Linked DNA regions of Homo sapiens: region 2 is linked to region 1. Evidence: fine-mapped expression QTL. A gene starts in region 1. The other region holds a variant in brackets. All regions are shown on one strand. Distances are from middle to middle.

Region 1 (15,619 bases):
GAGGCAGAGGTTGCAGTGAACCGAGATAGTGCCACTGCCCTCCAGCCTGGGCAACAAAAGTGAAACTCCGTCTCAAAAAAAAAAAAAAGTACACTATTATATAGTATTTCCACCATATAGATACAATAAATGTAAGTTACTTCAAGAACACAGATGAGCTCTCTGCTCTTGCCATACAACATACAGACACATCTCGTGTAGCACCAGCAGCAGCCTTGAGACATCATGGTGTGAGTGAAGGCCAGAGTAAATAGATGGGACCATATTGGAAGCCTGTTTACCAGGGCTGCTTTTAACTCTAGCAAAGTGGATAGTGTCACCATCTATGACCACTTCATTCAGGTCAACTCCATGGTCTACATGTTCTAGTATGACTCCACCCATGACAAGTTCCAAGGCACCATCAAGGCTAAGAACAAGAAGTTTGTCACCAATGGAAATCCCATCACCATCTTCCAGGAACAAAATCCCATCAAAATCAAATGGGCTGGTCCTGACGCTGATTATGTTATGAAGTCCACTGGCATCTTCACTGCCTTGGAGAAGGCTGGGGCTCACTTAGAGGGTGCAACCAAAAGGGTCATATCTGCTCTCTCTGTTGATGCCCCCATGTTTGTGATGGCCGTGAACCTTGAGAAGTATGAAAACAACCTTGTGATTGTCAGCAACGCTTCCTGTACTGCCAATTGTTTAGCTGCCCTGCCCAAGGTCATCCATGACAACTTTGGCATCATGGAGGGACTCATGGCCACAGTTGGTGCCAATATTGCCACCCAGAAGACTGTGGATGGCCTCTCTGGGAAACTGTGGCGTGATGGCCACAGGACTCTCCAGGACATCATCCCTGCATTTACCCACTCTACCAAGGCTGTGGGCAAGGCCATCCCTGAGCTTAACAGAAAGCCCACTGGCATGGCCTTCCATGTCTCCACTGCCAACATGTGGGTTGTAGACCTGATCTGCCATCTGGAGAGAGCTGCCCAAATATGATGACATCAAGAAGGTGGTGAAACTGGCATCGGAGGCCACCCTCAAGGGCCTCCTGAGCTACACAGAGCACCAGGTTGCCTCCTCCAACTTTAACAGAGACACCCACCTTTTCCACCTTCAATGCTGGGAATGGCATTGCCCTCAAAGACCACTTTGTCAAGCTCATTTCCTGATATGACAATGAATTTGGCTACAGCAACAGAACGATATACCTTATGGTCTACATGGCCTCCTAGGAGTAAGGGCCCTCTGAACCACCAGCCCCAGTGACAGCACGAGAAGAAGAGAGGCCCTCAGCTGCTGGGGAGTCCCTGCCAAACTCAGTCCCCCACCACACTGAGAATCTCCCCCTCCTGAACACTGTTTCCATGCCAGGCTCCCTGAAGAATGGGAGGGGACTATGAGACCGCACTTTGTCATGTACCATCAATAAAGTCCCCTGTACCCAGCCAAAAAAAGTAAAGTGAGCATAAATGATAGTGAAATATATAAAAGTAATTACATAGTGATGAGTTTGGGTTATTTATTACCTTTGTTTTTATTTTATTTATTTATTTTTTAGAAATGAGCTCTTGCTCTGTCACCCAGGCTGGAGTACAATAGTGTAATCATACCTCGCTGTAACCTTGAACTCCTGGGCTCAAGCGATCATCCTGCTTCAGCCGCCTGAAAAGTTGCGATTATAGGTGTGAGCCACCACACCCAGCTCTATAACTTATTTAATGGTAAGTTTATAAAATTTAATTAAATAATGTCCGTGTTCAACAACCAGCTTTTAAAATTCCTTTTTTTCTTTTTCTTTCTTTTTTTTTTTTTTTGAGACAGGGTCTCCCTCTGTCACCCAGGGTGGAGTGCAGTGGCTCGATCCCTGCTCACTGCAACCTCTGCCTCTCAGGCTGAAGTGATTCTGCTGCCTCAGCCTCCCAGGTAGCTGAGACTACAGGCGTGAGCCACCACACCCGGCCAAAATTCCTGAAATGTTAACAATCAGCTCTAGAGGGCTGAACTAGAACCAGTCCATGGGCTTTTAGGCATTCCCTGTGCTGCCTGCATCAGTAACTTAGGCATTTTGGTCTTACACTGGGTTCTACAAATTACGCAGCCAGTCCTCCTGCCAACTCTATGCTGGAATCTGCACGCCAAACCGAGGGCGGGCTTGGGCCTTGGAAATTTCTGAAAGGCTTGAGTCACCTCCCAGGATTATCCCAGGCCTAGCAGCCTTCCACGGAGGAACCCCACCCTGTCCAGAGGAGCCAGAAGGCCTCTCCTAGGAGCCGGGGAGATAGGGAGCCGGGGAGCCCGGGAGCCAGCTTCCCGTGAAGAATGAGTCCACAGCACCATCTGGTGGCACCTGGGTGTCAGGGCTCCTTGGGAGCAAAAGCCAGGATCCTGGGATAAGAATCACCTGCCAATTCTAATGGGGTGGGTAGGGGGAGTAGGAAAAAAATCATCTGCCAAAAGGGGTCCAGCAGTGTCAGAGGGGGGATTTGAGTCAAAGGAGGGTCTGAGGGTGTGGGATTTACCTGCATTCATACTTTGCCTAAGAGCTGCAGGAGACTGTAGAGGCCCCAAGGACAGTGAAAAAACTGAATTTCAGAGAGAAAAAGTGACAACTGCCCATAAACCAGTATTAAAATCTAGCTCTGCTGACTCCCAAACCAGTGTTCTTTCAACATACTGTTTAACTCAACAGATGTCCATTAGCCCTCTACCAGCGCCTAGCATTGTATGAGGCTCTGAGGACAGGGGTAAGGAGGTAAGACAATCATAATCCCTACATGAGGACTTTATGCCTTGCAATGTGCTAGGTGTTTTATTTATTTTCTTTAGTCATTACAACAACCAGAATTAGTATCCCAATGTTAAGGATGAAGACATTGGCCGGGCACAGTGGTTTATGCCTGTAATCCCAATACTTTGGAAAGCCAAAGCAGGTGGATCGCTAGATCCTAGGGGTTCGTAGACCAGCCTAGGCAACATAGCAAGACTCCATCTCTACAAAAAAAAAAAAAATTAAATTAGGCATGGTGGCACATGCCTGTGGTCCCAGCTACTCAGGAGGCTGAGGCAGGAGGATCACTTGAGCCTAGAAGGCTGAGGCTGCAGTGAGCCATGATCATGCTAGTGCAGTCCAGCTGGGGTGACAGAGTGAGACCTGCCTCAAAAAAAAAAAAAAAAAAAGGATGAATATGTTTGATGCCAGAGGTTATGGCAGTGAAAGGAGCCAACGGTCAAGGTACTGGGGTGAACAGATAAGGAAGACCAAAGAAACCCAAGCAAAGGGTCCCACTGAATCCACAGTCACTAGGGACATCATGGGCGAGCACTCTGCTGGGCCTGGGGGTGAGGAATGAGACAAGGTGAAGATAACGAAGGACAGGATGCCTGCAGCTATCATCTGGGTGGGGAGGCAGGACATAAGGTTGGAAGAAGTTAAGACTAGCATGAAATGCACAGAAGCTTGATTTTATTAGACAGCCTTGGGTTCAAATCCGAGTTCTGCCATTTCCTAGCTGTGTTACCTTGAGAAAGTCACCCCATATCTCAGAATCTTAGCTTTTTCACTTTTATTTAAAAAAAAATAATAGAGGCCGGGCACAGTGGCTCATGCCTGTAATCCCAGCACTTTGGGAGGCTGAGGCAGGCGGATCACCTGAGGTCAGCAGTTCAAGACCAGCCAGGCCAACATGGCGAAACCCTGTCTCTACTAAAAATACAAAAATTAGCTGGGTGTGGTGGTGCACGCCTGTAATCCCAGCTACTCAGGAGGTTGAGGCAGGAGAATCGCTTGAACCTGGGAGGCTGAGGTCGCAGTAAGCCAAGATTGCACCACCGCACTCCAGCCTGGGCGACACAGTGAAACTGTCTCAAAATAATAATAATAATAATAGAGATAGGGTGCCATTATGTTGCCCATACTGGTCTCAAACTTCTGGGCTCAAGCAATCCTTCCATCTCAGCCTCCCAAAATGCTGGGATTACATGAGTCACCGTGCCTGGTCACCTTCTTCATTTATAAAATGTAGATTAAAAATAGTTCCCACCTCATTGAGCTTTTGGGAAGGTACACTGTATAAAGTGCTCACCCCAATGGCACCGTTAGATCTGTTAACAGTAGCATTCAATCATTTGATCACATCATCTTCACAACACAAATCATTTCCTTATTCCAAACCTTTGGTGACTCTCCTCTGTCCATGAATTTTAAGTCCTGCATTCAAGGCTCTCAAGAATCGAGATGTTAATGACCTTTACAGCCTCACGTCCATCCTCTCTTTTCCTTTTTCTTTTTAGCTATTCCAGATTGCTCTAAATTAGTCCTGTCTTTGTCCTCACTCTCCTTGCATTTATTCTTTCATTCACTGAACAAATATTGAGTGTCTATTATGTACCAAACACTGTTGTAGGTGCTAGCCGTAGACAAGTGAACAAGACAGACAAAAATCCTGCCTTCATTGAGGTTGCATTTCTAGTCTGAAGGAGGCAAACAATTTTTTAAACAAAGTATAATATACAATATGTCAGAGAAGAGAAATGGGGGTGCTTGTTATGCAACTTGTGATTTTAAATAATGTGGTCAGGGTGAGTAAGAAGATTATATTCAAGTAAAGATCTGAATGAGGTGAAAGTTAGAAGCACATAAATATCTGGAGGTAAGTGCAGTCTAAACAAAAGGAACAGCAAGTTGAAAGGCCCCAAGTCAGGAGAGTCCCGGGAATTTTCAGGGAATATCAAAGTAGCCAATGTGTCTGGAGCAGAGTGACTAAGGGGGCCAGTAATGTGAGGTCAGATCAACTATACGGGGCCTTAAAGGAGACTGTGAGGACTTATTGGCTTTTTCTCTGAGTGAAATAAGAGGACATTGCAGAACTTTGGGCAGAGGAAGGCTGTAATCTGGCATGTATATACATATACATATATATATATATACACACACACACACACATGTTTTTCTTTGTTTTAAAGACAAGGTCTCTCCATTGCACAGGCAGTAATGTAGTGGCATGGTCACAGCTCACTGCAGCCTCAACCTCAAAAAATTAGCCAGGGCTGGGTATGGTGGCTCATACCTGTAATCCTGGCACTTTGGGAGGACGAGGTGGGTGGATCGCCCAAGGTCAGGAGTTCAAGACCAGCCTGACTAACATGGTGAAAACCTGTCTCCACTAAAAATACAAAAATTAGCAGAGCATGGTGGTGGGCACCTGTAATCCCAGCTACTTGGGAGGCTGAGGCAGGAGAATCGCTTGAACCTGGGAGGTGGAGGTTGCAGTGAGCCAAGATTGCTTGTCACTCCAGCTTGGGTGACGAGAAAGAAACTCTGTCTCAAAAAAAAAAAAATTAGCTGGGCGTGGTGGCATGCGCCTGTAGTTTCAGCTACTAGGGAGGCTAAGGCAGGAGAACTGCTTGAACCCGGGAGGCAGAGGTTGCAGTGAGCTGGGATCGTGCCATTGCACTCCAGCCTGGGTGACAAGAGCAAAACTCCATCTCAAAACAAACAAGCAAACAAACAAAAAACCACCAAATATCTGTTTGAGTACTTGCCTTCTATTCTTTTGGGTATATACTCAGAAGTGGAAGTGCTGGATCATATGGTAATTCTGTTTAATTTTTTTGAGGAAATGGCATATTGTATTCCATACCAGTTGCATTCCCAGTGACGTATGTCTTTTAAAAGATTACTTTCAGGCAAATGAAGACTAGACTTAAGGAAGGCAAGAGTGGATGCAGAAATATTTGTTAAGAGGCTCTTGTAATTAACCATGAGATTGATTATGGTAGCTTGTATCTACATAATAACAGTGGAGGTGGTGAGAAGTCACTAGATTCTGGTTTTGTTTGAAAGGCAGAGCCAACTGGATTTGCTGATGGGATTAGTTTGGGAGTATGAAAGAAAGTGAGAAAGCAAGGATGACTCCTAGGTTTTTGGCTCGAGCAACTGGAATAATGAGGTTCCATTTACAAATGTGGGAAAGTTTGCAGGAAGATGAGGTGGATAAATCAAGAGTTTGTTTTGGGACATGTTAAAAATAATACACCTATTACACATGCAAATAGACAAAATGAACCTGATGTTCAGAGAAAATGTATGGGTTGGAGAGGAAATTTGAGAGCCATCAGCATATACATGGCATTTAAAAGTATGAGATTAGTGAGATGGCTCACACCTGTAATCTCAGCACTTTGGGAAGCCAAGGTGGGTGGATCACTAGAGGCCAGGAGTTTGAGACCAGCCTGGGCAACATAGTGAAGCACTGCTAAAGAAAAATTAAAAGTAAGGCAACACAGGGAGACCTCATCTCTATTTAAAAAAATAATAATAGCTGGGCTTGATGGTGCATGCCTGTAGTCCCAGCTACTCAGGAGACTGAGGCAGGAGGATTGCTTGAGTTCAGGAAGTCAAGGCTGCAGTGAGCCATGATCGTGCCACTGCACTCCAGCCTGGGCAACTGATATGGTTTGGCTCTGTGTTCCCACCCAAATCTCATCTTGTAGCTCCATAATTCCCACGTGTTGTAGAAGGGACCTGGTGAGAGATGACTGAATCATGGTGGGGGCGGGTTTTTCCCGTGCTTTTCTCATAATAGTGAATGGTTCTCATGAGATCTGATGGTTTTAAAATCGGGAGTTTCCCTGCACAAGCTCTCTTCTCTTGTCTGCCACCATGTGAGATGTGCCTTTCACCTTCCTCCATCATTGTGAGGTCTCCCTGGCCATGTGGAACTGTGAGTCCAGTAAAACTCTTTCTTTTGTAAATTGCCCAGTCTCAGGTATGTCTTTATTAGCAGTGTGAAAATGGACTAATATGGCGACAGAGTAAGATCCTGTCTTAAAAATAAAATAAAATGGGCCAGGAGCAGTGGCTCACGCCTGTACTCCCAGCACTTTCAGAGGCCGAGGTGGGTGGATCACCTGAGGCCAGGAGTTCAAGACCAGCCCGGCCAACATGGTGAAACCCCATCTCTACTAAAAATACAAAATTAGCTGGGTGTGGTGGTGGGTGCCTGTAATCCCAGCTATTCTGGACGCTGAGGCAGGAGAGTCATTTGAACCCAGGAGGCAGAGGTTGCAGTGAGCCAAGATCATGCCACTGCACTCCAGCCTGGGCAATAGAGTGAGACTCCATCTTAAAAAATAATAATAAATAAAATCATGAGACTTTATGAGAATATCTGGGGAATGACTATAAACATCAAAAAGGAGGAGGACACCAAGGGCTGAGCCTTCTCCCAGGGAATATCCCATTCCAGCAACAAGAAGGCGGTGAGAAAACAGCAAAGAATACTGAGATGCCAATGAACGGGGAAGAAAGTCAAGAGGGCATGATGTCCTGGAAGCCAAATGAAGAAAGTGGTCAACTGTGTCAAATAAGATGCGGATGTAAAACAAGAACTGAAAAGTGGCCATTCCTCTTGGCGACCTTAAGAAAGTTATGTCAGGCTGGGTGCAGTGGTTCATGCCTGTAATCCCAGCACTTTGGGAGGCTGAGGAGGGCAGATCACCTGAAGTCAGGAGTTCGAGACAAGCCTGGCCAACATAGTGAAACCCCATCTCTACTAAACATACAAAAATTAGTCGGGCATGGTGGTGCACAACTGTAATCCCAGATACTCGGGAGGCTGAGGCAGGAGAATCGCTTGAACCCGGGAGGCAGAGGTTGCAGCGAGCTGAGATTGCACCACTACACTCCAGCCCGGGCAACAGAGCAAGACTCTGACTCAAAATAAATAAATAAATAAAATAGATGTTTCCGTCTTCCACAGGGAGGACCAAAAATAAATAAATAAATAAAATAGATGTGTCCGTCTTCCACAGGGAGGACGTGGGATGGTGGCGGAGCTGGCTGCAGCAGAGCTACAAATAAATATAAAATAAATAAAATTAAATAAAATTAAATAAATAAAAGAAAGTTATTTCAAAGGATTGTCTGAGAGGCAAAAACCTAACTGCAGTGAGTTCAAGAGAGAATGGGAGGAGAGGGGAGTTGCAGACTGTGAGTAGGCAACGCTTTTGCTGTAAAGGGGAGTAGGGAAACGGTGAGGGATATAGAGAGGGCTGGTTTTTGTTTGCCTTTGAGATGGGAGAAACAGCAGTACGGATGATGACAAGGATAAATGCAGTCATCAGAGGGAAAAGAGATGAAGGGGGGATTACTAGATCTATGTCCTTAAGCAAACAAGAGGCGATGGGATCTACCGCACACGTGGAGGGGCTGACCTTAATTAAAGTCCAAAGTATGTGGGCTGTGGAATCTCCCTTCCAATCGCAGTAGAACTCAATCCAGGCGGTCTCCGGATTTCTCCAGACCACCTCCACCTGGCGTTGTTCTGAGCTGGGCCACCGAAAGTTGAGATTACTGAATGTGTGTGTCTCCCATTAACCCGTAAGCCCTCCAAAGGCTGCATCTAAGTCGCCTCTGAATTATTCACATTCCTCCAAACTCTGGGCCACAGCCCCGCAATATGGGCTTATTGAATTAGCCCAAAGAGACACAAAGCAGCCTCTACGCAGCTGGTTTCACAAAGGGGGGCGGTCCTAACCCTGCGCTCTGGGATCCTGACGTTCGAGCTATCTCTCCTCCTCCCCTCTGCTCCCAGCTCTCCGCAGTCCAGCTTGTCGGCTGATCATCGTCCATAGAGGCCACCGTACCCGACGTTTGCGGACAGTGACAAAGAGTCAAGCTTGGTGGAGCCTGAGGACAGGACTGAATGACGATTGAACTGAGAGTTCAGGGGCGGAGTTTGAGGGCGAACTCGGGACAGAGACTGGATAGAGTTCAGGGAGGCGGGACCTAATGATGGCGCAGGGAGGGGATTGGGCTGAGGGCGGTGCCGGCGCGAGGATTGGGCCGAGCGCCTCGGGGGCGGTCCTTGAGGGGGCGGTGCCGTGTCGGAAGTCAAAGGTCAGTAAATAGTGGTGATGTCATGCAGGCAAGATGGCGGAAGGGTGAGCTTGTCGTTTTGCTCCTAGGCGTTGGGGCCTGAATTCTCCCAGGGTTGGGGTGCTGGGCGAGAGTCCCGGTGGGGAACGTGAGATCAGCGGGGGCGTGGACTGATCTGAAAGGGCAGAGTGGAGTCGCATTGTGAGGGGGTGGGCAAGCGGTCTGCGAAGCCTCGGCCCGCAGGGTACATCTGAGCGGGGAACAAACCGGATCCTTGGGCGGGCAGGAATCGCACCGCGGTGCTGCCAGATGTGTCTGTCTTCCACAGGGAGGACGTGGGATGGTGGCGGAGCTGGCTGCAGCAGAGCTACCAAGCAGTCAAAGAGAAGGTAAGCCGGGCCCGTGCCCTTCTTCCCTCAGCAGGGCCCTGCGCCGCCTCAATGCAACCTGGTCCAACCAGCCCCGCCCAACTTTTGCGGGCGCTAAGTCTCAAGGATGAGGCTGACCTGGGCCTTTCTTTTAGCCTCTACCGGTCCACGGGAAGACAGACCTCGACGCAAACCAGTGTGATACTAGCCACAGTGAAATAAAGATGGTTTTAAAGGCTGGAGTTAACGAACGTTTTGTAGGAATCCATAGGAAGGAGCAATTTATTCCAGCTCAGGAAATTCAGTTTCTTCGTGAAAGAGAGAGCATTTGATACAGGTCTTGAAGGAAAAGATTCTAGCAGTAAAAAAACTTACTCGTATAGTCATTCAAATATTAGAGTATATGCGACAACCAGCACTCTGATAGGTCTTGAGGATACAGACTTCAGCCAAACAGATGTAATCCTGGGCCTTACAAAGCTCACAGTCTAGTGGAGAGACAGCCATTAACCGAGTAGCCAAACAAATAGTTGTTTAGTTACCGTTGTGGTAAGTTCTGTGAAAGGAAAGTACAGGGGCACCTTGTCTGTTCTGGTTAGTCAGTAACTCACCAGGGAAGGCCCCTGTGGAGAAGGAACCTCATCAAGGGCAACCCTGCCTAGACAGGATGAAAAGCAAGAACCCAAGCCAGAGATGAGCATGAGCCATACACACTGGTGCCTGATGAGTTCTAAGTAGGGGCTATGCAACGGGCAGTAGAGAGAGAGAGATTAATCACCAGAGAGTGGAAGGCCTTCTTGCTGAACAATCTCTGTGGGATGAGTGATATTTGGCTGTGCCAGTGGGTAATTTGCCAATGTGTATTCCTGTTTCATTTCATGCTTATTTGTCAAAATCAGCCCAACTGAATTGTGGGAAAAGTTGATTACTATTTACCTCAAGCAATTGGGATGAGTCCTGCTTCAGGGCCAACTCCAGGAAGCTTCTGACCTCACCTAAATAAGTCCTCTACTCTGGGAGTATTTTTGTTTTGTTTTGAGACAGAGTCTCACTCTGTCACCTAGGCTGGAGTGCACAGGTGCGGTCTCAGCTCGCTGCAACCTCTGCCTCCCAGATTGAAGTGATTCTTGTGCCTCAGCCTCCCGAGTAGCTGGGATTACAGGCATGTGCCACTACTCCTGGCTAATTTTTGTATTTTTAGTAGAGACAGGGTTTCACCATGTTGGCCAGACTGGTCTCGAACTCCTCACCTCAGGTGAGCCACCTGCCTCAGCTTCCCAAAGTGCTGGGATTATAGGCGTGAGCCACCACACCCAGACATCTGGGAGCGTTTTTATTCCTCCCTTATCCTGGGTACTCCTGGACAGCCTCTCAGCAATAGCCCAGCAAATCTGAGAATGCCCTGAGCTGTTTATGTTGTTGATGAGGACTGAGAGGCTTGCACCCTAACATTTGATAGAAGAGACCCGATAGTAGCATATTTCCTGTTGGGTAATTTCCTGGCAGGAAAGTCTGACATTCATTCAGCAGATGTTGCATGAGGGCCTCCTGTGTTTGTCTCAAGGTTGGTCTTATCATAACTTATGAAAAATAGATAGTTGGCCAACCTTCCGTCTTCATTCTTGGAATTCCCAGTTAAAAGCTGGGGTGGGGGTGGAGGTGGGAGTTGTTTATGCCTTTTTGGAAAGAAAAGACGTAATTTCCCTTTTTTTACTTTCTTACTCTTATATGTACTTGGGCAAGTGTTTTTTGTTTTTTGTTTGTTTGTTTTTGAGACCAAGTCTGGCTCTGTTACCAGGCTGGAGTGCAGTGGCTCAGTCTCAGCTCTGCAACTTCCGCCTCCTGAGTTCAAGTGATTCTCCTGCCTCGGCCTCCTGAGTAGCTGGGATTACAGGCATGTGCCACCACGCCCAGCTAATTTTTCTATTTTCAATAGAGACAGGGTTTCACCATGTTGGCCAGGCTGGTCTCAAACTCCTGACCTCAGGTGATCCGCCTGCCTCGGCCTCCCAAAGTGCTAGGATTACAGGTGTGAGCCACCACGCCTGGCCTCTTGGGCAAGTTTTTAACCTCTCTAGGCCTCAGTTCCTCATCTATAAAATGGGAATACTAACAATACCTACTTGATGAGATTGTGGTGATGGTTAAATGTTAATATATGTAAAACACTAAGAACAGTACCTAGCATACAGTAAGTGCTATATAAGCATTAGCTGTTATTAAGTGCTGAGGCTGATGGGAAAACCTCTTAGATACCACCCCCAGTTCGTTTTTCCTTCCATTTTTTTTCTTGGTCTTTTGGTGCTTTCCTATCTGTATGTCCCATTCTGGCTCCATCTGGACCACTCACTTCTCAGCACTCCTTAGAACACATTGCCCTGAAGACCACAGCTATGAGATGGTGCTATCATCTGCTTTCCTCTGCTCCTTACCTCCTCCTGTCCTGTCTTCCTGTGTGTTGTCAAGGGCAATATGACTGACACAAATACGTGTGCATACACGTTGATAGAGAAAGGCATATCATTGCTCTACATACTTACCAGAAAGAAGAAATTAAAAAGAGAAAGGCACCAAATGCTTTTTGGTTCCATCACAGATTCCCCAACCTCATCTGGGCCCACATACTCTTCAGTCTCCAATTTGCTTCTCCTCCCCTTAACTTCAGAAACTTTCCCAAAACCTAACTCTTCCCTGGGGTCCCCTATTCAGCCGCTTTATCCCTTTCACTTCCAGGAGACAACCTCATCTACTTTTTGAAACTTCAGGTGAACAAACAGGATCTTTAACTCTCTCCCCACCCTCAAAGCCACCACCTATAAACTTATCTTTACTCAGTCAGCTTTACCTACTGCTTGCCAAATCCAGTGGGTGGTTTTCAGCCCTTATCTTCCTGGACCATTCTGCTGCATTTGACGCTAGTGATCACTCCCTCTCTTGAAACGCTACTCTCTTGGCATTTGTGACATGATTCTTAAGTCTCCACATACTTCTCCAGACGTTGCTTTTGTAACTGTCTCATGAGTTCCTCTTCCTCTGCTTGCCCCCTACAGGTAGTGTCTGAGGACACTTGTCCTCAGCCCATTGCTCTGTCCACTTTCCAAACTCTTCCTGGGTCACCTTCTCCACTTTCCTGTTAGGGCGACTCTTAGACCTTTTGCCTGAACTTTAGTGTTGTGTTTTGCTTTGTTTTGAGATGGGCTCTCACTTTGTCACCCAAGCTGAAGTGCAGTGATGCAAACATGGTTCTCTGCAACCTCCACTTCCTGGATTCAAGCAATCCTCCCACCTCAGGCCCCCAAGTAGCTGGGACTATAGGCGTGTACCATCACGCCCAACTAATTTTTGTATTTTTTGTAGAGATGAGATCTCGCCATGTTGCCCAGGCTGGTCTCAAACCCCTAGGCTCAAGCAGTCTGCCCACCTTGGTCTCCCAAAGTGCTGGGACTACAGGCATGAGCCACCATGCCCGGCCAGCTTTAGTGTTTGAGGATAGCTATTGCTGGACAGCTATCCTAGACAGCCCACAGTCATCTCAAGTTCTGCGTGCCCAAAGTCATTGTTACCACCTTGTCTCTAGGACTGCTCCTCCTCCAGGATTTTCTCACTTAGCTGGCAGTACTGCATCTACGCAGTCACCTATTTTAGCAGCCTGTGGTGCTTCCATGATTCTTTTCTAGCCCTCAGTCAACATACCTGTTCAGTCACCAAATCCACCTTCTTCCATCTCCTGTATCTTGAACCAGTCTCATCCTCTCCATCTTTACTAGCATTGTCCTTACTCACATTTTTCTATTTTCTTTCCTGGATTATTGCAGCAGCCTCCTGACTGGTCTTCCTTCTTCCTCTTCTAATCTTCTCGCCTCTGGACCTTTCCTCCATTCCAGTCACTGGAGTAATTTAGTGAAAAGGCAAATCTCATGTCCCACCCACTTCAAACCTTTGGTGGCTCCCCATCATCCATAGGGCTGACCAGGCTCTCCCTGGTTGCCCTTGGCAACCTCTCCAGCTTTATCCCTCACCACTCTTGCTTCACATTTTATGTCCATCAGGACTGTAATGCTTGTAGACGTCACTAAACCCATGTCAACACTTCTTAGCTGACTCCTGTTCTTTTTTTTTTTTTTTTTTGAGACAGGGTCTCACTCTGTTACCCAGACTGGAGTGCAGTGGCATGATCACAGCCCACTGCAGCCTCAACCACCCAGGCTCAGGTGATTCTCCCACCTCAGCCTCCTGGGTAGCTGGGACTATAGGCGTGTACCACCACTTCTGGCTAATTTTTTGTATTTGTGTGTGTGTGTGTGTGTGTGTGTGTGGAGACGGTTTTGCCATAGTGTCCAAACTGGTCTCAAATTCCTGGGCTCAAGCAATCCTCCTGCCTCGGCTTCCCAAAGTGCTGGGATTACAGGCATCAGCCACTGCACCTGGCCCACATCAATACTTCTTAACCAACTCCTGTTCATTCTTTAAGGGCCCATTCCAGGCTTCTGGTCACCACATCTTCCCAACCTCCCCATAGTACAGCAGCTACTGCTCTGCCCTTGCACATCAGCACTATCATGGGACCATTTTCCCCAGTAGACTGTGACCTGCTTGAGGGCAACGTATGTTCATGTTTGTCTGCTCAGAGCTCACAGTCTAGCGGGAAGACAACTGTTTAGTCACACAAGTGGTTACATAATTGAAATTTCAATGGTCCATGTAAATTTAACAAGCAAACATTTTTTGAGTACCTACTGTATGCTCTGTGTCAGATACTGGGGAACCATCAGGGAACAAAACACATAGGACCTGTGTTCACACAACTCACAGTTTATCCAGGAAGACAGACATTGAACAGGTCATCTGAAGTCTAAACTATGTTCAGTGTTAGAAAAGAGATAAATTGGGAGGCCAAGGTGGGCGAATCATGAGGTCAGGAGATCGAGACCATCCTGGCTAACACAGTGAAATCCCGTCTCTACTAAAAATACAAAAAATTAGCTGGGCTTGGTGGCGGGCGCCTGTAGTCCCAGCTACTCGGGAGGCTGAGGCAGGAGAATGGCATGAACCCGGGAGGCAGAGGTTGCAGTGAGCAGAGATCGCGCCACTGCACTCCAGCCTGGGTAACAGAGCGAAACTCCATCTCAAAAAAAAAAAAAAAGAAAAAAAAGAAGAAGAGATAAAGCAGGGAGAGCCAGCTGAGCCTGAAGAGGCAGCAGGAAGCCCCTCTAGGGAAATGAAGCATAGACGTTGAGGATGAACAGGAGTTTTCCAGATAAGAGGGTTCCTTCATCGTGTTTACAGACTTGGTTTTTTTGAAGAGTTAGAACTCTGTATCAGGGAGAGGAAACAATGTGTTCAGATACTCTGAGGCAGGACAGATGCTAGGGCATTTTAGAAACTTGAGGAAGGCCAGCTGGAGCTCAGTGAACGGCACAGTGGTAGGGGATACCAGTCTGCCAGAGGCCAAGTTATATAGGCTTTGTAAGTAAAGGTGGATTTTCAATTTGCTCTTAGGATAGTGTGTAAACTTAAAGAGTGTAAAGCAGCACGGTCTGCCCTGACAGACAAAGCACCCACTGGGTGTCATAAGGAGAATGAAGTAAAGGTGGCTGAGACAACCTGGGAGGAATCCAGGTGAAAGAATAAGTTGGCCTGGACTAAGATGGTGGCAGTGTGGATAGAAAGAGTGAATCGGTAAATGACCCAGGGCACAATTTCATGGTGCTGTGAAATATTTTTTAAAATTTTAATAAAAGTAAATAAGTAAATGACCTCCTCCACCCCCAATTAAGGAGTCCTGAGTTGATATGGAGGCATGATTACCACCCCTAGAGAAGCCTGTAGCTGATAGACTGTGCCATTCAGAAACTTCCCAAGCTAATGAAAAGTGGGCAGGCCCTTCCCAGAAGAACAAACCACAGGAGCGCTCAAAAACATGCTTTAAAAAATGCAGGTGATTATCCCCGTGTAAGATGAAAGGGCTTGCAGGGGGAGTGGCCACTGAGATACTCCAGGAAGCATCCTAGAGTTGGTGAGTCTGAAGCAAGACAGGGCAAGACCTAGAAGTGAGCTGAGGGTCTGCTTTCTCAAGTGAGGTCTGGGTGCAGGCTGAGAAACAGATTGGTTTAGCAGGAGCAAATATGCATTCTGCCCAAAGGAGCTTTGTATATGAATAGAACCTCGGGATGGTAGAACCAAGAAGGCCTCCAAGAGAATCTGATCTAGTCTTTCTCTTGACCGCTTCCTCCTTTGTTGAATGTAAAAAATCACATGCCTTTTTACTGATATTAAATTGTTAAGAATTACTCATAAAATAGCTTTCCAAGCTATTGCTGTTACTAATACAATTAGTAATTACTAATTCTTAAACCCGAAGGCAAATAACTTCACATAC
Region 2 (15,619 bases), 28 kb after region 1:
CTAACACTCAGCACCAGCCACAGCCACAAAGCTTGCCCAGCAGGTAAGGCCTGGCCTGCTGGTGTAGTAAGGGACTGGTTTGCCACAGTGGATGGGAAATGGACCCCACCCCACCCCTAACCTATTCCCTGATGGAAACCATAGAGTTTCCAGTCTCCAACCCAGTGTCTCCCTTCTGACTTTGATCAATGAGGTCATCCATTGGGCTCCTACCTGGTTTTTATTGTTTTTTTTTTGAGGCGGAGTCTCACTGTCGCCTAGGCTGGAGTGCAGTGGCGCGATCTCGGCTCACTGCAACCTCCGCCTCTCAGGTTCGCGCCATTCTCCTGCCTCAGCCTCCCGAGTAGCTGGGACTACAGGCGCATGCTATCATGCCCGGCTAATTTTTTGTATTTTTAGTAGAGATGGGGTTTCACTGTGTTAGCCAGGATGGTCTCGATCTCCTGACCTTGTGATCTGCCTGCCTCGGCCTCCCAAAGTGCTGTGATTACAGGCGTGAGCCACCGTGCCCGGCCTGAGCTCCTACCTGTTCTTTATGAGACACTGAGTGGGAGAGGGGCAGAAGCCGCAGCCTTTGTGAGGAAGCATAAAGCAGGGTGGGCCAGTCTGGTACTGGAGGAGTTCAGAGAAAGAAGGAATCTCTGGACATCTGCGGTGCTTCACTGAGGAGACAAGCCTCGTATAGGAGAGTTGGTGAGTTTGGGGCAGGTGCAGGGGAGTGGTAGTCTAAGCTGAGGAGGCCTACAAAGACTAGCTAGCAAAGGGCATGGGGCATGTTTAAGGCGCGGTGACCTAAACCCACTCTTCTGTATTCTCTCCCAGGAGAAGGAGGTACAAGAAGGGTGAGTGGGTTGACTCAGAAATAGAACTTCAGAATTTAAAACCTTAAGCTGGATTCAGAAGGTTGGCCTTGGGGCCATAAAGCAGCAGAGCATGGATGCTAAGGCTGTGGGTTCTGGAGTTCAGACAGTTCTGGGTTCAAATCCCAACTTTGTTCATAAGTCATGTGACTTCAGAAAGATTACTAATCTTCTCTAAGCCTTTGTTTGCTCCTCCATAAACGGGATAATTGTTTCATGATAGATCCTCAGTCAGAGCAGAATTAAGTAGAGCCCTGCTTTGGGGAAATGAAAATAGAGGTAACATTCTCTGAGCACTTTCTCTGTGTCTAGATCTGTGCTAAGCACAGATGCATATGCACAGTAATATGCATATTACTCAATCCTTACAAAAGCCCTGTGAGATCTGTGTACTTTTTCTCATATTTCTAGTGGTAGGAACCTGAGATCAGTGACCCACCCAGTAAATATTTCAGTGTGAAATAGTCCTGTAGAAGAGGGAGGAGTAGGTGGTGGGCCTGACAGGTGTAATAGGGTTGCTGGGTGGATGGTCCCAGGGCCCACTGAGGTTGTGATTGTAGGTTTTAAGTGAGACCATCAACATGTTGTATTTTTGTTCAGCCATATTCAGTTGCTCAGGTGCAGGAACAGAGCAGATGGGGAGTTGGATCTAATTAGGTTCAAGTTTAGCCAGGTAAAATCAGTTGATGAAAAGAAGAAAGTCCGCTGGGCACAGTGGCTCACACCTATAATTGCAGTACTTAAGGGAGGCTGAGGCAGGTGGATCGCTTGAGCCCAGGAGTTTAAGACCAGCCCTGGCATTGTGATGAAACCCCATCTCTACAGAAAATACAAAAAATTAGCCAGATGTGGTGGCACGTGCCTGTAGTCCCAGCTACTCGGGAGGCTGAGGTGGGAGGATCACCTGAGTGGGGAGGTTGAGGCTGCAGTGAGTTGAGATTGCTGCACTGCCCTCCAGCCTGGGTGACAGAGCTGAGACCCTGTCTCAAAAAAATAGGAAAGAAAAGAAAGTATATGCAAGAAGTGATAAGAATGATGCCTCATGGAATCTGAGCTGAGTACGGGAGAGAATGAGGGATAGTGAAACAGTTGGAGGGTTACAAATTATAGGTTTCATTTGGAATTGGGCTACAAAGGGTGATCAGAAAAAATCAGTAGTGGTTGGAGACTGGATGGAATTGAAATTACAGGAGAGGTAAACATAAGCTCTTAACTACTCTGCTATGCTGCCTCTGCTGCCCTCAGGGCCTGTGAAAGGAGAGGCTGAGGATGTGCTATAGAAGACTCACAAGAAACAACCGTAGTCAGGTGGGAGGAAGCCAGAGTCTTGGACTAGGCTGGAACAGTGGGAACAGAGTAGAAGAAATAAAAAGAAGAATGGGGGCTTGGAGACAAAGTGACTCCTTTTTCCTGTTGGGCCCAAGTCCTAGGGTGACATAAGGCTTGGTCTCTGGGTATAGCAGAGTCTCTTGGGGTACCCTAGCCAAAGGGTTTTACTGGTTCCCAGGGTGATCCCTGTCATCGCAGAGCTGCTTTCCACCTATGTTTTGTCACAGCATTCGTCTGTTCTGAGAGACTGGACTTCTTTCTGCAGAGAAGGGGAGGAGAGATTGGGGCAGGCCTGTGGCCTGGAAGGAGCCTGGAGGTTAAGACCTCACTTCATGACCGTGTGACCTAAGAGCAGTTTTGCCTCTATTTCTTAACTGGGGAAGCAGAGAGCCGATTAAACAGAATAAAATGAGCTGTGAGTGACAGCACTACAAAGTTAGCAATCACCCGAAAACTTCCATTTTCAAAACCAAACCAGTAGAACTCCATTCTGAAGTCTTAAATTGTAGCATAGGCCACCTCTCTGCCACATGCACATTGTAATGGAGATCTTAGTGCTCTCCTTGTGTGACAGGGTAGGACGGTGGAAGGAGGCAGATGGCAGAGAGAACCCAGCTTCACAGCTCCCTGCACCACCTGAAGCCTTCATTTCCTCATCCGTATACTGGGACTGTTAATACCCACCCAAGAGCTAGATGTGGAATATTCCAGAAATGTTAGTGGATACTCTGTTCTCTACCCCTGAAAGGTTCTGCCATAGCATTTAAGCCTGAAGAGACAGTTTCAAGTCCCTAGAGGGCAACCTGAGGTTAGGGAAAGCTGTCATGGCCACAACCAAAGCCCTGAAGTGAGGAAGCAGCGAAGAGTCTGGCTAACCCACAGGAAGCCTGTGGTGACAGCCAGATGAATGTCACCTAAGTGTCCTGAAGGCACAGAGGGATGTAGGTGCAGAGTCAGAAGAGCTGGGTCTTGGCTGCCCTGACTTCCTGAGGTACCGTGTACAGAATGACATAACTCTGAGACAAGGCCCTTAGAAGAAAGGCAGCACCATTCATTACATAGCCATGTGTATGTATGTAATAGGCACTTTACATTCATACCTCTAATTCTAACACCATTGTTTCTCAAACGGCAGGGCCAGGTCTACACAGAACACACAGGTACCTGCTTATAATGCAGCCTTCCCAGCCACCAGCTAGACCTGCTGAGTCTTAGTTGGGACTGGGGGTGGGCAGGGTAGGAGTCTGTATTTTAATACGCTTCTCCAGTGGTTCTTTGCAGAGGTTGCTTTTATCCATATTTTATAAATAGACTGAAGCCAACAATAATTTGCCCAAGACTACACAGTAAAGGAGTAGGTATTCAACCCAGGTCTGCCTGGCCCCAGAGACCATGCTCTGGCTAGAAGAGAGGATGATGCAGGATACCATAGAAGGAATGTGGGAGCGGGGCTGAGGGGTAGGTCTCAGCGCGGAGGCATCTGGTGAGGAGTAGGTCGGAGAAGAAGAAACGGAGATGTTTACTGGTCATGCCGTTGGAGGATCAGGGACCCACTCTTTTTAAAGGTACTTAAAAAAAAAGACTACAGGCTGGGTGCGGTGGCTCACGCTTGTAATCTCAGCACTTTGGGAAGCCGAGGCGGGCAGATCACGAGGTCAGGAGATCGAGACCATCCTGGCTAACACGGTGAAACCCCATCTCTACTAAAAATATAAAAAATTAGCCGGGCGTGGTGGCGGGCGCCTGTAGTCCCAGCTACTCAGGAGGCTGAGGCAGGAGAATGGTGTGAACCCAGGAGGCAGAGCTTGCAGTGAGCCGAGATTGTGCCACTGCACTCCAGCCTGGGCGAGAGTGAGACTCCATCTCAAATAAAAAAAAAAAAAAAAAAAAAAAGATTACAAAGTCGTATGTGTTCATTTTAGGAAAAAAATTAAGGAAAATCACCTCATGAACTCATCACCTAGAGATAACTTTGCTAGTGTATTTGGATATCTTGCTCATCTCTTCTGCATGTGTGCATGCATCTATGGGCACATTTTAAAGCTGGAATCTTACTGTACATGCTTTATTGAAAGGAACTATTTGTGTAGTTTACTTCTTAGTAATAACTTTTATATATATCTTTTTAATATTACCTGTAAGAAGTCATAGCCAAATATGAATGTTTAGAGCAATGATCATCAAATAGTACAGACAGGCATCAGAATCATCTAGAGCAGAGGGTGGTAAGCTTTTTCTGTATAGGACCAGACCATAAATATTTTAGGCTTTTTGGGCCATGCAGTCAAAATTACTCATCTCCGCTCTTGCAGCATGAAAGCAGCCATAGACAGTATGTAAACAAATGATGTGACATGGCTAGAATTTTTTTTTTTTTTTTTTTTTTTTTTTTTGAGACGGAGTCTCACTCTGTCACCCAGGCTGGAGTGCAATGGCGGGATCTTGGCTCACTGCAAGCTCTGCCTCCCGGGTTCAAGCGATTCTTCTGCCTCAGCCTCCCGAGTAGCTGGGACTAACAGGCGCTTGCCACCACCCCCAGCTAATTTTTTGTATTTTTAGTAGAGATGGGGTTTCACCACATTAGCCAGGGTGGTCTCGATCTTCTGACCTCGTGATCCACCTGTCTCGGCCTCCCAAAGTGCTGGGATTACAAGCGTGAGCCACCACGCCCGGCGACATGGCTAGATTTGATCCCTGGGCCATAGTTTGCCAACCCCTGGTTTACAGAAAGGGTCTGTGACTATTGAGTGCCAACTATGTGTTCTAAAAACTTGAAATACATAAGAGAACAAAACAAAAGATCCTGGCACTCACAGGGCTTATATTCTAACTCCTCTATTAATATACAATAAACATATTAAGTCTGATTATGTAATATGTTAGAAAGTGATCACTACAATGGGAAAAAGAACAATCCAGAGCCAGGCGCAGTGGCTCACGCCTATAATCCCAGTACTTTGGGAGGTCAAAGCAGGCGGATCACCTAAGGTCAGGAGTTTGAGACCAGCCTGGCCAACATAGTGAAACCCCGTTTCTACTAAAAATACAAAAATTATCCAGGCATGGTGGCATGCCCCTGTAATCTCAGCTACTCAGGAGGCTGAGGCAGGAGAATCACTTGAACCTGCGAGGCAGAGGTTGCAGTGAGCTAGGATCGCGCCACTGCACTCCAGCCTGGGCAACAGAGCGAGACTCCGTCTCAAAAAATAAATAAATAAGTAAAAATACAAAAATTAGCTGGATGTGGTACCAGGCAGGTGCCTGTAATCCCAGCTACTCAGGAGGCTGAGGCAAGAGAATCTCTTGAACCCAGGAGGCGGAGGTTGCAGGGAGCTGAGATCGTGCCACTGCACTCCAGCCTGGGTGACAGAGCGAGACTCTGTCTCAGAAAAAAAAGAACAACTAGAGCAGAGTGAGGGTGATGATGGGTTGCTCTTTAAACTAGGATGGTCAGTGTAGGCCACATCTAGAAGGTACGATTTGAGCAATGGCATGAAGGAGGTGAAAAGTTGGTCTTGTAGATATCTGAGGATACGAGTTCCAGGTGCAGGGAACAGCCCATGCAAAAGCCCTAAGTTGGGAATGCGCCTGGTATGTTTCTGGAGGAACAAGATTAGTGTGGGCAGAATGGAGTGAGGAAGAAGAGGTCTACTGTTTGGGGGTCCGAGGGGAGGTTTTTGTTTTCTTTAGAGACAGGGTTTTGCACTGTCAACAGGCTGGACTGCAGTGGCATGATCATAGCTCACTGCAGCCTTGAACTCCTGGGCTCAAGTGATCACCACACCTCAGCCTCCTGAGTAGCTGGGACTCCTTAGGTGTGTACTACCATGCCTGGCTAATTTTTAAATTTTTTTCTAGAGACAAGGTCTCAGTTCACTGTTGATTTCCTCTGGAAGATTTCTGTGACTCTCTTGGAGCCTCTGGGCCAAAGTGCTTCTCCGCTCTTTAGTAACCTGCCTTTTCCGAGGTAATAGTTTAAGGCTGTTTGGCATGGATGTGAAGTTCTTCTCCAGCCTAACCTCTAACAGCCTACAGTGTTCCACCATGTAACTCACTGTTTACTTGTCTAATTCCCTGTCAGTGGGCTTTCAGATTGTTTCTAGGTTTCCATCACTATGACAGCACTGCAGTGAACACTCTTTGCTAAATTTCTGACTGAATCCAAGATTTTTCCTTAGAATAGATTCTTAAAAGTGGGGGCCAGGTGCGGTGGCTCACACCTATAATCCCAGCACCTTGGGAGGCCGAGGTGGCCAGATCATTGAGGTCAGGAGTTTGAAACCAGCCTGGCCAACATGGTGAAACCCCGTCTCTACTAAAAATACAAAAATTAGCCAGGTGTGTGGGGCGTGCGCCTGTAGTCCCAGCTACTTGGGAGGCTGAGGCAGGAGAATCGCTTGAACCTGGGAAGCAGAGGTTGCAGTGGGCCGGGATCACACCACTGCACTCCAGCCTGGGTGACAGCAAGACTCCATCTAAGAAAACAAAAAAAAAAAGTACGATTGGTGCGCCAGAGTGAACACAAAATGTAAAGACTTGTGTATTTGTGAGACCCTTTTGAAGCATGCTATCTCCCCAGCTACACCCTCTTCAGGTGCCCCTTCCCTGCCTCCTCCTGCTTTTCACACTGTGGCTCGTGGTTCCAGGCTCAAGCACGGACATCAGTGAGGACTGGGAGAAAGACTTTGACTTGGACATGACTGAAGAGGAGGTGCAGATGGCACTTTCCAAAGTGGATGCCTCCGGGGAGGTGAGTGGGCCTGGTGGGTCAGAGGGAAGCGAGCCTAATGGTCCTGGGTGTGAGAGCTCTCCCCAGCCAGCCCAGCTGTCCCCTCAGGAGGGTCCCTGCTCCTGTCTGAGGTGACAGGTGGTGGGAAAGGAGCTGGAGCTTCCTGCTCAGACCCACAACATTGGTCATCAGCAGGCTGCACTTTTCCTCAGTTCCAGGGTGGATAGAGGGTCAAGTTCTTGACCTTAGCTCTGTATCAAAATTGCCTGAGAAACTGCTTAAGAAAACAGATGTCATGCTGAGCGCGGTGGCTCACACCTGTAATCCCAACACTTTGGGAGGCCAAGGTGGGAGGATTGCTTGAGGCGAGGAGTTCAAGACCAGCCTGGCCAATATAGTGAGACCCCATTTCTGTTTTTGAAAAAAAAAAAAAAAGGAAAAAAGAAAACAGACATCAAACCCTGCCTGACCTTCTGAGTTGTGGTCCTCAGGTATGAGGCCTGAGTATATACTTGGCCTTGGAGACAAAAGACCAGTGTGATCAAGGGCAAGGGCAAGTTACTTAACCTGAGCCCCTGGTTCCTCATCTAAAACATGGAATTGATCATTATAAGACCTGGCTATAAGCTGTAATGAGGTGATCCATGTAGACACCTTAGGGCTATTGCCTGAGACATGGTGACCAGCACTCAGGAGACATTAGTGATAAACCCCACAAAACCCATTCCAGTTATTAAGCTCAAGGAGGCCTTAGTACTGTTATTCTTCACTACCTCTCAGAATCAAAAGTGGCTCATTTAGATTGAGAGGCTGGAACAGTCCAAAGCTCTCCCAGCTAATAAGTGACAGGACTGAGGCTGCAACCCAGACATCTGATTCATGTCAGCGTTAGTTCCACTGTCACATAAGAACCACATGAGTCCTTCCATCATGTAACTTATGAGCCTGTTAGAAAGAGGTGGACAGATTAGAGAGACATGTGAAGGGCCTCCTTTTTCATGATGGGAAACTGAAGCCTTGGGGGAGTATTTTACCTACTCAGGAGTATTTTGCACTTGTGACTACCTCACTATACCCAGGACAGAGAAAGCCCATAGTGCCCTGTCAGGCCACAGGGGCTTGCTGGCTTTTTGTGTCTTTGCAGCCCCCTTTAAAACCTGACGTGCAGTACACGTGAGCATTCTAGAACCTGCTATACCAGGGCTTAGCCGACAGCAGGCCAAGAGTAGGAACAAAGCAAGAAAACGTTCCGTGGGGAGACTTGAGCTGGGAATTAGGGTGTTGGTGCCCCTAGTGAAGACCTAGTGGGCATCTGTAGGCCACTGCCACCTCTGCTTTTGGCCACAGTGCCACTCAGGCAGTGGCCTCCATTCACCCAAAGACTAAGTAACTTGCCCTTGATTACACTGGTCTTTTGTGTCCAGGGCCAAGTATCTGCTCAGGCCTCCTGAGTTCTCTGCTTCTCAGAGCCATGGCATTATCTGCTCAGCAGGAGGCAAGTTCTCCTTAAAGGACTGAGGCTGACTTGGTTCCTGTAGGCAGCCATCACCTTGTGGTGTCTGGTGTTGGTTGGGGGAAGTGTTTCCTTTAGGTCTGAGGTAATCAGAGCATCAGGCCCACCCCTCAGGCAGAGGGCAGCTCTGCCCCTCAGACACATTCCTTAAGACTAGGGGTTCACTCTCAGTGGGACCTCAGAGTATGGCCTGGGGTAGGGGATGGGAGGTGGCTCTGCTCAGCAAGTGGAGGTTAGGTCTGGGCCTGACTCAGGAGTAACTATGTGTTTGTGATTTCCATTACCCCCTCCCATTTGCAGCTGGAAGATGTAGAGTGGGAGGACTGGGAGTGAGGGAGCCAGAGGGAGCAGCTCCCCCACCCATGGCATCTCTCGCCTCCCTCGCTCGTCTCAGCCCAGCCCTGGAAGACTGAGAATGTTCCCCCAAATCTCCTCTGCCAACCAGAGCTCTGGGCACAGATTCTGGTGGCTCCCTGCTGGCCCTCTTGGGCCTCTGCTCACACCTGGGAAGGGGCTCTCTAAATCCCGGCCAGAAACTCTGACTTGTGCCAACAATAGGATGACCCAAGGGAGAGGAAACCTATCCTCCTCACCAGAAGAGCCTGTGTTTTTCTGCTGAACACCCACTGTTCCTGAGGACTCCTGCTGGGAAGTCCCAAGGGATAGTTCTAGCCCTTCTGCCTGTGTAGACAGAAGCTAAACCACCAGTCTCTCTCGGAGGAAGCTGAGACAACATACTCTGTCCATACATAAGCAGGCAGGGAGGGCCATGCCACCTACCCTTGGCTAAACAGGGACAGTGAACACATTTTGGTTCCTATCCCAGTGGGTAAGAGGCACTTATCTCTGGGAAATTTGCCTCTCTTGGGACTCTCCCCCTCCCAGGCATTTTCCATTCCTGGAAAGGCTCCTTTGGGGTTCAGAATCCAGAGACCAAACCCTGACCCACCTCCTTCCTTTCCTCCAGCCCACGCTGGTCTGTCCCCATGCCTTCCCAGGGCTTCTTCATGTC[G/A]GATGCACCCAAGTCCTTAGCCCAGCTGTGCCACCTGCAGGAGTTCGCTCTTGCGTTTCTTCCCCTCCCCAAGAAGGGAGGGGGCTACTTCAGGCCCTTCTGTGTGTTGCCTGGCAGGATACCTTGTCCAACCAGCTACCCACCTCAACTCCCCTGTAGTTTAGGACACAAAACAGCTACCAGCGGTACAGAGCGGTGATCAAAGCCGAGTACTTACAACTCTGGTAAGCCTAGCTTCTCCGCCTCAGCCCTTCTGCTTCTGGAAGGGCTATCCTGGGGGTGAACTTGAAACTCTCATCAGGCTTCTGCAAAAGCTCTTCTTCCTGAAGACAGACCCAGCCTTTGTGCTCTCACCCTCCACTCTGGTAAAGCTGCACCTCTGGGGGAATGAGGGGCTGCAGGAATCTCTGGAGAGCCTGGTGCTTCACGATGCTGCTCTGGTGATTCTTGTACCTAATCTGGTGTGCTCACCAATGAGTGAAAGGGATCGTGGGTCAGGGACACCGAGAGAGTGAGGTCACTTCCACTTCAAACCTTCAGTGAGGGGGTGGGATGGAGAGAATGCTGAATCTTTTTTTTGACGGGATGGGGTTTTTCTCTTTGTAATTATTTCTTTAGTTTAATTAACCTTTTGGTTGTTTGTGCAATATTATATATTTTAAATTATAATGCATCTCCCCAGAGTATTTTGTAGCTGGGAAAAGAAAAAAGGAAAAAAAGAAAAAAAGATTCTAACAGCTGTTAGTTTTATAATTAAAAAAGAAAGAAAAAAGAACTTTGTCCTGAACCTTTTACAGACTTGCCGTTAACAGCATTAAAGTGATTCACCCGAAGCTGAAAGGTGTCTGGGGGTCTGTTTTTGTCCCCTTGGCAGCTGCACTGGGCCAGGGCAGGACTGGCTTCCCACTTGGAGCCAGAGACAGGGTAGGGGGATAGCCTAGGTCCAGAGGACGTACCTTGTCCTCATCCCAGATTCAGCTTTGCCTTTGGGATGAGAAAGGGTCAGGGCTCGCAACAGGCCTCTCACTGGGACAAGGAGTCGGGAGGCCATCTCTGCACTCCCAGTGCCTCTGCTTTCCTTTGGAAAGGAAGTTGCAACAAGAATGGCTTCAGTTGCTCTTGGTCATTTTTATCCTCTCTTCCCCCTGTTTGTATATGATTCTTGGGTCTATTTTAATTAACTTTAGTATGAAAATCACTTGTCATGCCAGGCGCAGTGGCTCATGCCTGTAATCCCAACATTTTGGGAGGCCAAGGTGGGTGGATCACTAAGGTCAGGAGTTCCAGACCAGCCTGGCCAACATGGTGAAACCCCATCTCTACTAAAAATACAGAAATAGCCAGGCGTGGTGGGAGGTGCCTGTAATCCCAGCTACTGGGGAGGCTGAGGCAGGAGAATCGCTTGAACCTGGGAAGCAGAGTTGCAGTGAACTGGAATCGTGCCACTGCATTCCAGCCTGGGCGACAGAGCAAGACTCTTAAAAAAAAAAAAGGAAGTCTGAATGAGGCCCTTTGATTCCATGAAGATCTCTAAAAGGAAAGAGTAGTAGTAAGGCTGGGGTAGATGTAGGTAAGTTTTAGGATAAGTAAACTTAAAGCGTAAAATATATATCACCATTTTAGAAGCGGGTTTTTGGGTTTGCTTTCTCCCCCTACTTTATTGGAGAGCACTTGCCATTGCTTTTATCAAGTGCTTGCTAGCCATGGATGCCAACTAACTTCTTCAATTGAAGGCCGGAGGATCATATCGGGTTCCAGGAGCCTCTTGAGCAGGTCCTGGCAATCGGCCGAGATGCTCAGATGAGTGGGGAAGGACACCCCCTTCTGCTGCTGCCACAGCATCTTGGGGATGTCTGTGTCGTCAAAAGGTAGGCTGGCACAGAGCATGACATACAGGACCACACCCATGCTCCAGACATCACCTTTTTTGCTATCGTGGGGAATGCCCTGCAGCACCTCGGGGGCAGCATAGGCTGTACTGCCGCAGAAGGTCTGGCTCAGCTCCCGGTGTGACTTGGGCAACACCTTGGCAAAGCCAAAGTCAGTCAGCTTCAGGTTGAAGCCCTGCAACAAGGCGTTCTCACATTTGAGGTCCCGGTGGGCCACACCACAGCCATGGCAGTAGCGGATGGCCTCAACCATCTGACGGAAGAGGGCCTTGGCCCGGCTTTCAGGCAGTGGCCCCCCATTCAGCACGCAGTCAAAGACATCCCCTCCCTCAGCGAGCTCCATCACCAGGCAGATTTTCCCGTCGGCAGACTCCAGCATCTCATACACCTGGATGATGTTCTTGTGGTCCAGGGTACGGACGATTTGGAGCTCCCGAGGGAGGAATCTCTGGATAAACTCTGAGGAAGTAAGGGGAGGAGAGATGGGCTGGCAGATCAGAAAGGCCCACCTCCTCACACCTGTCTCCTGCCTTCCAACTTCTGCCCACCTTGTCTGGGTCTTATTTCTTGGCTTTCTTAATGGTCTTAAGTGTGTCTAGCTGCTTGGACATTGCAAAGAATGTTCACTTCTATTATTTTTGTCGTTAGTATATCATTCAAAAGAAGCACTCCCCACCAGCCTTGTGGACTGTTGTGAGCAGTCTGTGAGACTGGATATCAAGGTGCTTTAGGGACTTTTAGACAAAGCCACAGAATCACAAATTATAAGGCCTGATTTGTCCACAGGGTGGTGAGCCAGCTCCTCCCGCCACTGTCCCCTGACCCCACAATTCTTTCCATGAGCCCTGTCTTCCTTTTTCCCATCTCCACGGGCCTTGGCACCAGCCCCTGTTCTCTACCAGCCCTGGTTGTGGCCTCTGCCAGTCTCTGTTCCCCTGCCGGAAAGGAAAGCCTGGCTCAGGTTTTGCCTCTGAGGATCCTTCACCTCATGCCACTTTCATCTTGCATTCTGGGGGGGTGTAATGTTCCTGGACTCCCAGAACCCCTCTGTTCCCCACTGACCCACTCCAGAGCTGCCATCGGGCTTGCTTGGTTCCAGGCCAGCGGGAGCAGGGAATGATCGAATGATCGTTCTAACAAACAGGAGGAAGCACCCACCCACCTCAGCCAGTCCTCCCTCCTTCCCTCCAAAGGGGCCCCGGCTCACCTTCTGGCCCTCCCATCTTGTCTATAACTTTAATTGCCACTTTTCTTTGGTGTTTTTTGGAAAATGCTTCTTTGACTTTTGAGTAGGTCCCTTCCCCAATGGTCTTGCCCAGCTGGTACCCATTGGAGAGCAGAAAGTCCTCCATGCTGTCTAGCGCCGCCTTCCTATCACCCTCTCAGCTCATGCTGCCTCTGAGAGGCAGCTCTACTCCACCATCGCCCTTGGCCTGCTCCTTTTCTCCCCAAGGACTTCATCCGCAGCCGCCCCCAGCGTTAGAACATTCTCTGTCTGGACACAGCGGCGGGTGGTGGGGAGGGACAGGGCCAGACATTTTTAAACTCCGGTGCAATTGTGATGTAGATGCTGTGTGACCCTTGGCCAAAATGGGCAGTGCCCCTACCTGCCCTCACTACCACCACCAAACTCAGCCCGGATTAAGTCACCGCCGAGCCCGCCCCCGTGCCAGGCATTGAGTTGTAGTCCCGCCTGGGAGGGCGCTCCGCCGCGTCTGTGTGGACCGGGAATGCGCGGCTCCTCGGCGTGGACGCCGCCTCGCGGCGGGTTGCCCTGGCCTGCTGCGCCCCCCTCGGGTGTCCGGGGTCTGCGCGACCCCGTCTCCAGGCGCCATGGCCAGAGGCCTCCAGTCCCCGATTCTGGCCCGCGCTGAGTGCCAGGGGCGGCAGGGGGCACCGTTGGGGGTTCTCCAGTGGGAGGAACGTGCTCTGTGAGGTCAGCGCGCCGCGGCCCGGGTCACAATGCTGCCCTCCTCGACGCCCGGGCCCGGGCACGCCACAGAGACCTGCCCGGCTCCGCCTGGACCGGAGCGTTCTCCCGCGGCCAGGGCTCCGGCAGCTGCTTCTAGCCTGGGACCGGTCTCAACCGCCGGGAGGTGAGCGACGGCCCAGGGGGCGGGCGCGAGGCGGCGGCGCCCGGCGACCCGGGAGAGGCCTGACCGCCACTCCCCGCGCAGAGCGCCCCGGGGCTTGGACATGAGCGCCCAGGAGCCCCCGCAGGGTCGGAGATTCCCCATTGAGGCCGGAGACTCCCGTGGCCTTGCCGCCGCCCCCGAGTCCCAGGACAGCCCGGAGGCGGTAGCGACGGAGCACAACCCGGTCAGGTAAGGCCCGCGCCCCACCCCCGCCTCCGCCCGTCCCGCGGCCCCGCCCTCCGTCCCACTTGGCGCCCCCAGCAGTCAGGACCCCGCATCCACGTCCGGACCCCCGGGGACCCCAGGTGCACTCCCTGGGTGCGCCCCACAGGATGGGCCAAGCCCCTGCCTCAGCGGCCCCTGTCGCGCGTCAATTTCCCCAGGCCGCTTCGTCGCTGCCCTGGATGCCACTGCCTGACGCTGCTGCACGTGCCCATCGACGTCTACCTCGCCATGGGCGGGAGCCCCCGGGCCCGCGCCACGTGAGTGCGCCTGCTCCCTGCGGCTCCGCGGGAGCTGGGCGGGAACGAGGCCCCCAGCGGGCCACCACGCTGAGGTCGCATGCGCCGAGCACGAGACAATGATGCACATTTTAAAATAAAAGAATGATGCACATTTTAATAAAGCACAGCACAAACTGTTCTTTCCACTCCGGGCTGGCAGTGTATGTCTATCCGTCGGGCCCACCAGCTGCTCTGCCCAGTCCAATAACACTTTCCCTTCCGCAGCCTCCTCGTTTGGACCCAGCCTTAGGGGCCCGCCCTTCCGCCTTTCAACCTACGCCACTTCACTCCTCTCGTATCTTGCTGGTCCTGACCCCTCCTGGGCAGCCTTTCCCTTGGGCCCTGCCCTGGTCCATCTCTCTAACCCTCTGGTGATTCTCCGGTGAAATTCACATCACTGTGCTGGACCCTGGCAACCCACAGAAGCGGGGAACAGGAGGAAGAGGTGGACCGACAAGTAACATAGAATACAGCCATAGGCCACCCACACCAGGCTATCTATCTATCTTATCTATCTATCATCTATCTATCTATCTATCTATCTATCTATCTATCTATCTATCTATCTATGAGATGGAGTCTCGCTCTGTTTCCCAGGCTGGACTGCAGTGGCATGATCTCTGTTCACTGCAACCTCTGCCTCCCAGGTTCAAACAATTCTCCTGCCTCAGCCTCCCAAGTAGCTGGGACTACAGGCACCCGACCAGACCCATTTTAATCCTCTCGAGCGAGAAGTTCTGCGACAAAGTTCTGCGACTTGCTCTTTGTGGCCCTAGGTGCCTGGGACCTTCCTTATTGGAAGGGTTTGGAGCTGCCCCAGTCCATCCTGAGCCTTGGTTTCTCCCAGGACTGAAGTGATCATAAAAAGATTGGGGAAGAGGCCATTTGAAAAATGGTGGCTTGCCAGGCGCGGTGGCTCACGCCTGTAATCCCAGCACTTTGGGAGACCGAGGCAGGTGGATCACAAGGTCAGGAGTTCGAGACCAGCCTGGCCAACATGGCGAAACCCCGTCTCTACTAAAAATACAAAAATTAGCTGGGTGTGGTGGTACGCACCTGTAATCCCAGCCACTCGGGAGGCTGAGGCAGGAGAATTCCTTGAACCCAGGAGGCAGAGGTTGCAGTGAGCTGAGATCATGCCACTGCACTCCAGCCTGGGCAACAGAGCAAGACTCTATCCAAAAAAAAAAAAAAAAGAGAGAGAAAGAAAGACGTTGGTTTAACTTCCTATTTTACAGATGAGTGAACTGAGCCTTTGAGACTTACCCAAGGTCCCCCAATGAGAGTCTAGCACACTCCTCAGCATCCTGAGACCACATGACCTAAGATCTGCCCTCGGAGGGGCCCATGACAGGAAGCCTGCCTGGAGGTGCTAGTATTTAAGCTAAACAACTATTTCCTACTTTCCAATTTGGCTTTAATGAGCCCGTATATTCTACTTTCCAATTTTGTTACGGGGGGAGTGTAACCTAAAGGTCAGGTTCAGTCTCCTGTCCCCTGAGATCTAAGGACAATTGATTCAACACCCTCCTCTAATCCTCATAGGGTAGAGAAGTCCAAGCTTTCCCTAGAGCACCTTAAAATTCCACGTCACCCAAAAGGGATACCCTTCTCAGTTTCCACATAAAATGCTCTCCCAGGCAGTCCCC

The links.
Region 2: its variant is fine-mapped to the expression of BSDC1 in whole blood (TOPMed, PIP 0.95).

What each region holds. Positions count from the first base shown.
Region 1 is chr1:32,387,722-32,403,340 of GRCh38, reverse strand. BSDC1 (BSD domain containing 1) reads left to right here and starts at 8,900. Exons shown (of 11, transcript NM_018045.8): 1 at 8,900-8,937; 2 at 9,201-9,261. The coding sequence starts at 8,927. It also overlaps the pseudogene GAPDHP20. RefSeq lists enhancers at 7,072-7,767, 8,515-8,594, 8,466-9,161, 8,885-9,174, 9,162-9,859 and 1 more.
Region 2 is chr1:32,359,767-32,375,385 of GRCh38, reverse strand. It overlaps TSSK3 (testis specific serine kinase 3), which reads right to left and starts at 12,847. Exons shown (of 2, transcript NM_052841.4): 1 at 12,540-12,847; 2 at 11,074-11,791. The coding sequence starts at 12,684. The coding sequence ends at 11,130. BSDC1 (BSD domain containing 1) reads left to right here. Exons shown (of 11, transcript NM_018045.8): 10 at 6,836-6,939; 11 at 8,732-10,753. The coding sequence ends at 8,764. It overlaps FAM229A (family with sequence similarity 229 member A), which reads left to right and starts at 12,901. Exons shown (of 3, transcript NM_001167676.2): 1 at 12,901-13,428; 2 at 13,510-13,656; 3 at 13,851-14,116. The coding sequence starts at 13,295. The coding sequence ends at 13,953. LOC124903933 (a long non-coding RNA gene) reads right to left here. Exons shown (of 3, transcript XR_007065642.1): 3 at 14,058-15,619. RefSeq lists silencers at 12,970-13,169, 13,320-13,619. The variant G/A (reference allele first, on the strand shown) is at 9,444.